Regions from separate parts of the Homo sapiens genome. Here regions 2 and 3 are each linked to region 1. The links come from fine-mapping of genetic effects on gene expression. A gene starts in region 1. Each other region holds a variant in brackets. All regions are shown on one strand. Distances are from middle to middle. Region 1 holds the start of RAD51C (RAD51 paralog C). Region 2 overlaps PRR11 (proline rich 11). Region 3 overlaps MTMR4 (myotubularin related protein 4).

Region 1 (2,759 bases):
GAATCTTGGCTTTAAGAAAACTGTGCTGAGGTGTTTTGTTTGTTTGAGACAGGGTTTCACTCTATCACCCAAGCTGGAGTGCAGTGGCGTGATCATAGCTCACTCCCAGGCTGAAGGGATCCTCCCACCACAGACTTCTGAGTAGCTGGGACGACCGGTGCATGCCACCATGCCCGGCTAATTTTTTGTACTTTTGGTACAGACAGTGTTTCGCCATGTTGTCGAGGCTGGTCTCAAACTCATGAGCTCAAAGAGATCCACCTGCCTCGACCTCCCAAAGTGCTGGGATTACAGGCACGAGCCACTGCGCCCGGCCAGCTTTTTTTCTTTTATCAGAATTGATATTAAACTATATGCTGAGCTTCCATGTCCTTATCTTCCTTTTGGCATGGCTATGGCCATTTGAAATGTGTGGGATTTGCTAAAGTGCTCAACATACGTTGTTTCCTTTTTTAGATCTAAGTATGTAGAGGGCTCTGATTTGCAATATTTAGAAAGTTCTTCTAAGCTGGGAAGAAAAGTCAAGACTAAGAATCATTGCCAACAGGGCCGGGCGCGGTGGCTCACGCCTGTACTCCCAGCATTTTGGGAGGCCGAGGCAGGCGGATCACGAGGTCAGGAGTTCGAGACCAGCCTGGCCAATATGGTGAAACCCCTTCTCTAATAATAATACAAAAATTAGCCGGGCATGGTGGCGTGCGCCTGTAATCCCAGGTACTCAAGAGGCTGAGGCAGGAGACTCACTTGAACCCGGGAGGCGAAGGTTGCAGTGAGCCGACATCGTGCCACTGCACTCCATCATGGGCAACACAGTGAGACTCTGTCTCAAAAAAAAAAAAAAAAAAATCGCCAATAGGTAGGGAATAAGTTACCCCCTGCTAAATAAGTTACACTCACCTAGGCAAGGAAGGAACTCATAAACCACCTTCTAAACTGCTTGCCTTCCTCCCCGAAGTTCTGTAATTTAGAGGCGGTCACTACCACTGCTTGAACACCCCTTCCCAAGTCTGTACCACAAAAGGAGCTCTTGTGTAGCCCAGCCCCTCCTTCTCAGGACCCCAGGAGCCCAGACACACTAATGGGGACATTAGTTGCTTACTTTTCCAGCTACTGCTTAAGCTAGGCAGGCCATGAAGAAATAACGGTCTCAGTAACCTCCATGCTCGGGATACGACTCCCGGGAAGACGTGGGTGGGTGCGGGGAATGCGGACTGATCCCTCCCAGCGGCCGTTGGGGGCTGGCCCACAATCCCTCGCGAGGGCGGGAAAAGCAATGTGGTCGTTGCGGGGGGGGGGGGTCAGAAAAGGGGGACGGTCAGCGGGAAGAGCCAAGAGACTGCAACTCTACAAAGAGCACGCAGATTAATTCTAATGATTGTTCCCTGAGCTTTTCACACCAAAATAATGGTAACTGGCTAGTGTGTGCCCGTTACGCTCACTACTCCCACTCGAGATCATTCCTATTAATGACTCTGAGGCTTCACCTAACAGGCCACGGTGGAGGCAAGGAAATGTGGCGTGGAGAACCCACTGGGCCTGGCTCTCCGTCCTATGGTCTCCGTCCATCGTTTTACAGTCAGGGTGTACATTTGATGAGGAATCTCTAAATGGGATTTTGGGGAATCAAAACGGAATGGTGCATAAGTGTGAAAATTTACAAGACTGCGCAAAGCTGCAAGGCCCGGAGCCCCGTGCGGCCAGGCCGCAGAGCCGGCCCCTTCCGCTTTACGTCTGACGTCACGCCGCACGCCCCAGCGAGGGCGTGCGGAGTTTGGCTGCTCCGGGGTTAGCAGGTGAGCCTGCGATGCGCGGGAAGACGTTCCGCTTTGAAATGCAGCGGGATTTGGTGAGTTTCCCGCTGTCTCCAGCGGTGCGGGTGAAGCTGGTGTCTGCGGGGTTCCAGACTGCTGAGGAACTCCTAGAGGTGAAACCCTCCGAGCTTAGCAAAGGTAACGACTCCTGATGGCAAGCTGAGGCACACCGGCCGCCGTCAGCGCCGCCTCAGTCTTCGTTCTCTCGCCTCGGCCTTCAGCCCAGTCTCCGTTAGATTCTGCTTCCTCCCACGTCCATGTTTACAGCGTGAAAGAGCTCCTCGACTCCACTTACAAGTTGTCTGAATGGTTAGGAGAACTGTGGTCGTGAAAACATTTACTAATTGCTTTTCCTCTGGCAATGCCTGCTGAATGCTTTGAGGATTGTCTCATTTAACCCTCAACCCGCTTACGTAGATTATTATATTCAGTATATGGATGAGAGAACTGATATCTTGGGGAGCTTAGGTAACTTTTCATGCTAACTGGGTTAGGAAATACTGGAGTCAGAATTGGTTGTCTAATTTTTGCTGTTCCAAGATCCAAGGGGTAAGGGTTAAATTTCAGAAATGCAGGATTTTGTGTAGGACTAGAGACACTAAGAATGAGAAAGAGAGTAGAATCCCCGGAATCTTGAGGAAGCATAGAAAGAATATTCTCTTACGTAATTAACTGAAACACCCAAAACCTCATATTCCAGAGCATTGCAGATGGGAACCACTGCATCCTGAGACATACAAATATGAGGCTGGCGGTGGTCACTTGTTGTGCACATCTCTCTATGACATGTCTGGACCTGTGCTATTCACTGAAGAAGATGGAACAGAATTTTAAGTTACTGCCCTTACTGATGGAAAATACAGAGGTTTCAATTCGCCTCTAAAGAATAAGTCTCGTGGACCCAGCCTTAACTGTTTAAGTCATACCGCGCGCAGACTGTGTCCCCCA
Region 2 (2,759 bases), 480 kb after region 1:
TGGCTTACGCCTGGAATCCCAGCACATTGGGAGGCTGAGGCAGGAGGATCATTTGAGGCCAGGAGTTTGAGATGAGCCTGGGCAACATAGCAAGACCCTCGTCTCTATAAAAAATGTAAAAGACACGCCAGACGTGGTGGCTCATGCCTGTAATCCCAGCAATTTGGGAGGCTGAAGCAGGTGGGTCGCTTGAGGCCAGGAGTTCGAGACCAGCCCCATATCTACTAAAGATACAAAAATCAGCCTGGTGTGGTGGCACACCTCTTAGTCCTAGCTACGCAAGAGGCTGAGGCACAAGAATTACATGAACCCAGGAGGAGGAGGTTGCAGTGAGCCGAGATTGGGCCACTCCATTCCAGCCTCAGAGGCAGAACAAGACTCTGTCTCAATAAATAAATAAATAACTGTCCAGGTGTGGTGTCACAGCCCTGTAGTCAAAGCTAATCCGGAGGCTGAGGTGGGAGGATCACTGGAGTACAGGATATGGAGGCTGCAGTGAGCTATGATCTCACCACTGCACTCCAGCTTGGGGGACAGGGCAAGTCTGTCTCAAAAAAATAAAAGAAATTGAATACATTGATATTGTGCCAAGACCCTGCCTTCTACAGGCATCTAGTCTAATGGGACTGGGAGTAATCAGGGCAGATGACGTAATCCCAATATCACATTATAATAGGATGTAACTGGAGAGCTACAAGCATGTAAAAGTTGCAAGATGAGGGAAGGCATCACAGAGGCTATGGGGTGAACTGACTTTAAGGAATGGGTCCTTCCCTTCAGAACCACATGTGTGCGGGACACCCAGACAGAAAACACAAACGCAAAGTCGAGTGGAGGGCATTTGGAAAGAGCGGTGAAGCCACACCAGGAAACACCAAGATGGCGAGCCAGTTTGGTTGTAGAGATTATAGAGAGGGTGGAATTTGCACTGTGGACCCTGGCCTCAATTTAGAAAGACATCAGCTAAGGAAGTTGTTCAGGTGGGCAGTGAGGGTGTTGTGCTTTGGAAAGACGCTCAGGCTGCACTAGGAAGCCCCCAGGCTTGGGGAGAGACTCCAGGAGGCCCCAGCAGGGAGCATTTGACAGTGGATTCGAGTGATGCAAGGGGGACCTGAACTGTTGCCTCTGTCATGGGAACCCGGAGGAGGTCGATGGC[G/A]TTTGCAGTTGATATGGGAAGGAGAGAGACAGAAGAACCAGAAATGTCTGCTTGCTGGGGGAAGCATCGTGTCCGCTCCTTTGCTCCTTTTCTTCTCCCCTTAGGAGCGGTTTATGGTTCCTTTTGTTTTATTCTTTTATTTGTACACTGGCGTTGGAATTTGGTTTTTTTGGCTTTTTTTTTTTTTTTTTTTTTTTTTTTTTTGAGAAAAAGTCTCGCTCTGTTGCCCAGGCTGGAATGCAGTGGCTCAAACTTAGCTTACTGCAATGTCTGCCTCCTGGGTTCAACGGGTTCTCTTGCCTGAGCCTCCCGAGTAGTTTGGATTACAGGTGCACACCACCATGCCTGGCTAATTTTTCTATTTTTAGTAGAGATGGGGTTTTGCCATGTTAGTCAGGCTGGTCTCAAACTCCTGACCTCAAGTGATCTGCTTGCCTCGGCCTCCCGAAGTGCTGGGATTATAGGCGTGAGCCACCGCGCCCAGCCTGAGTTTCTTTTTAGAAACAGCAGTCTAAAAACAAGATAGTATAATCCTCTTTTTTGTACACAGAGTAAAGAGGACAAATAGGTGCAAGAATAAATGAAAGGCTGGAATCCCACTTCCCCCGCTGTCCCAGGGTATTGGATATTGACAGATAGGAGGAAGCAAACCACTCACAGAGCCAGGAATAAATGAATGCATTGGTATTGCCGGGAGAAGAGGCCGGCGCGGCTAAAATATGCTATGACCATAGCCAGGAGATACTGGTGGAGAGAAAGGAACACAGAAAGGGAGAGGTCACATCTTGGGAGAGGAAGATCGTGGAGACAGTGGAATGGGGGTCTAGGGAGGGTTTGCCCATCAGAGAAGGGACCTGAGTGTTGGGGTGACTGTGCTCATGTGGAAATTGCGGGGTGGTGGGGTATTTGAAGGTCGGATGCAAATCCGAGAAGCTGGAGGAAGGCATGTTGGTGATGCTCCCAGGATGGTGGGCTCTGATGAGATCTTTGAAGGAGTGTGTCTAGGTCGGCTGGTATCAGGAGGGTCTTTTGTGTGCCAGGCAGAGAACTGTCCCAAAGAACTGAGAGTAAAGGGGCTAGGAGCTTCAGGGCTGCGGCCTGACTGTGGCCCAGAGCTCAGATCCCAAATGACCCATAGGAGAGGCAGGGGCCACTCATTCACTCAGCAAGAGACCAGCAGAGTCCTGAGGGAGATGCTGACAAATAATAAAAAGACCAAGAATAGCCGGGAGTGGCAGCTCAAGCCTGTGATCCCAGAAGTTTGAGAGGCTGAGACAGGAGGATCAAGTGAGTCCAACAGTTCTAGAACAACCTGGGCAACATAGCAAGACTGTTTGTATAAAAATTATTCGAGCATGATGGCATGTGCCTGTACTCCCAACTGCTCAGGAGGCTGAGGCAGGATTGCAAGAGCCCAGGAATTAGAGGCTGTGGTGAGCTGTGATCATGCCACTGCACTCCATCCTGTGGAACACAGCTAGATACTGTCTCGAAAAAAAAAAAAAAACAGGTGGGCACCAAGACTCAAGACTGTGGGAGCCAGAGGGGCACAGTGGCTCACATCTGTAATCCCAGCATTTTGGGAGGCCAAGGCAAGCGGAAC
Region 3 (2,759 bases), 180 kb before region 1:
CTGATCTTGAACTCCTAAGCTGAAGCGATCTCCCCACGCATCACCACACCTGGCTAATTTTTTCTATTTTTAGTAGAGATGGGGTCTCGCTATGTTGCCCAGGCTGATCTTGAACTCCTAAGCTGAAGGGATCTTCCCACCTTGGCCACCCGAAGTGCTGGTATTACAGGCGTGAACCACCGTGCCCAGCCTGATTGTTTTACAATCTTCACCCTCATAGCACTCCTTATTCCCTTTCCCTGCTTTATTTTTTTCCTTTACACTTACTATCATTTCACAAATTTTACTTATTACTTACGGTTGGTATCTCCTCATTGGAATGTAAGCTCTCTGAGGCGGCAAAATTTTGTCTATTTGTTCCCTGCTGTATCCCCAGGGCTTAAAACAGGCTGGCATTGAGTAGGGTACTCAATACATGTATATCAAATGAATAAATAAATAAACCAACAATAATATGAGTGCTCTGTGCCAGATATTGTCCTCGGTGCTTTCATACACATACACATTATCTCACTTAATCCTTACGATGACTCCATGAACTAGGCATTACCCCCATTTTTTCAGGTCAAGATCCTATGGGTCAGTAAACTGACCTCCCAACCCAGAACATGGTCTTCACCTTTTCTTCCAACTGGGGAAAGTGAGGCAGGATCTTTCCTCTCTTGCACCAGAGAAACCCTGCAGCACAGAGAACTGGACAAGACTAGGGCCAGGGGACCTGAGTGAGGCTCCGTTGTTCTCACCTCACCACTTTGGAGTCCTTGCAGGAAATGTGCAACTGGAACATATCACGGCTCTCCACACTGTCAATCATCCGGAGGGGGACCTGTAGAGGAAGGGCAAACTGAAGCTCAGACTCCCCACTGGGTACCACTCCTCACCCTCACCCTAGCGTAGGCACTAATGTATCAATAGCAGGAAGGAAACCAACATTTACTGAGGGTCTGTTAAGCACCTGGTAACTGTACGGAGTCCTCTGCATATGTGATCCCAATTAATGATCCCAATAACGTTGCACAGCAGGTGCTTTCAGCCCATATTACGAGGAGAAAAATCAAGCCTCAGTTAGGTGACTTGACCAAGGTCACCCAGCTGGTGAGTGGCAACGCAGGAAAAGAGCCCAGGTTTGCCTGACTCCAAAGCCTGTGTTCTTCCAACAATGCCACTGTGCTCCTTAGAAGGGCCAGTAATAGAATAATGGAAAGAGAGAAGAGGAGAAAGGAGAATGAGCCAGAAACAGAGCTAGGAAAATGAGGCAGGAAAACATGAGGTCAGAGAGAAACAGAAGGGATCCCCAACTTTTTTTTTTTTATTTTTTTGAGAGGTAGTCTCACCCTGTCACCCAAGCTGGACAGCAGT[G/A]GCACAATCTCGGCTCACTGCAACCTCCACCTCCCAGGTTCAAGTGATTCCCGTACCTCAGCCCCCGAGTAGGTGGGATTACAGGTGCGCACCACCAAGCCCGACTAATTTTTGTATTGTTAGTAGAGACACAGTTTCACCATGTTGGCCAGGCTGGTCTCGAACTCCTGACCTCAAGTGATCCACCCGCCTCGGCCTCCCAAAGTGCTGGGATTACAGGCGTGAGCCACTGCGCCCGGCCTCCAACTTTTTTAATGACATGATCAAGGACAGCCTTGGAACAATCCCACCTTGAACTTCATAGGGATTCTAGCTTAGGGGTAGGAGAACAATACAGAAACTCACGTTGATGACAGAGTCCTTGAATTTGATATGCAGCCGGTAGTTAGAGATGGCAATGAGGGCATCGGCTGCCCGGCCCAGGAACTCTACTCCCTCACCCTGCAGCACTGTGAAGGGGACCTGTCAAGGGGCAGAGAAACCTTCAGTCCAGAAGTGAGTGACCACCTTATCCTCTTCTACAGCCCCTGATCTGTGGGATCCCCTCTGGAAAAGGTGGGCCAAGGCAAGAGAGGAGAGTTCTCTCCACGGTAACAGCACCAGGCAACAGCTGTACAGGAAAGCTGCCTTTCCTTCCCTGCGGCCAAAGGCTCCAGGATGCGCAGACAAACCCTCCTCCTCCAGAGACCAGGGAACATGAAGCCAGAGCTCTGGTACCAGATGCCCTTGAGGATTTTTGGGAGAAGGGAGGGTGTTTTTTAACTGGGCAGGGAGCCCCATCTATCCTGGCCCCCAACTCCTCCTTACCTGAAGATTCTCTTCCTCCTTCACTAGTTCCTTGGGGGGGAACAGATCCTTGGCTTGGATGTACTCCAGGCTGGGGGGCCCCTCCTCACCCTGTAGGAAGGCCACAGTCCTAAGTCACCAAGCTCCACTTAGCCCATCAGGCTCATTCTGCTCCTCTCCCCACCAAGAAATCCACAGATACCCACACACACACACCTCTAAAGGTTCTGGTCACCAGAGAAGGGAAAAGAGATCTGACTTGGTTGGAGACAGGGAAGGGTGAAATGGAGAGCATATCAGCCTATTAAGCCTAAGGAAAGAGTGAGGCCCCAGGAGGAATTGGGAATCTGCACTCTTCAAAGAGGGACTCTCCTATAGAACCAACATTTCAAAAATGGAGGAGAGAAAACTAAGGAAAAGAAAGACTCTTTCCCTTAGACCCGCATAAGGGTAAGGCAGGAGTGGGGATGGGAAAGTGCTGTCCTGAGGAAAAGGAGCCAGGTATGGCAGCTGGTTTCAGAGAGAAGGGAAATCAGGCGCCTACAAGCCACTGAAGCTTCAATCTGGTGGGTGAAGGAGACAAAGAGGAGTGGGTGGGGGGATTCAGTCCCACG

What was found.
Region 2: its variant is fine-mapped to the expression of RAD51C in sun-exposed skin (GTEx, PIP 0.98).
Region 3: its variant is fine-mapped to the expression of RAD51C in T cells (TOPMed, PIP 0.97).

What each region holds. Positions count from the first base shown.
Region 1 is chr17:58,690,840-58,693,598 of GRCh38, forward strand. RAD51C (RAD51 paralog C) reads left to right here and starts at 1,763. Exons shown (of 9, transcript NM_058216.3): 1 at 1,763-1,949. The coding sequence starts at 1,805. It overlaps TEX14 (testis expressed 14, intercellular bridge forming factor), which reads right to left and starts at 1,206. Exons shown (of 32, transcript NM_031272.5): 1 at 1,100-1,206. IGBP1C (IGBP1 family member C) reads right to left here and starts at 1,206. Exons shown (of 2, transcript NM_001395966.1): 1 at 1,100-1,206. RefSeq lists enhancers at 1,521-1,620, 1,951-2,120.
Region 2 is chr17:59,175,355-59,178,113 of GRCh38, forward strand. The region is part of intron 2 of PRR11 (proline rich 11); the gene reads left to right. It also overlaps the pseudogene SPDYE22P. Among named protein-coding and RNA genes, the nearest start is that of PRR11, 21 kb to the left of the region's middle. The variant G/A (reference allele first, on the strand shown) is at 1,157.
Region 3 is chr17:58,510,686-58,513,444 of GRCh38, forward strand. MTMR4 (myotubularin related protein 4) reads right to left here. Exons shown (of 18, transcript NM_001378067.1): 2 at 2,167-2,256; 3 at 1,705-1,821; 4 at 744-826. Among named protein-coding and RNA genes, the nearest start is that of MTMR4, 2.6 kb to the right of the region's middle. RefSeq lists an enhancer at 2,757-2,759. The variant G/A (reference allele first, on the strand shown) is at 1,360.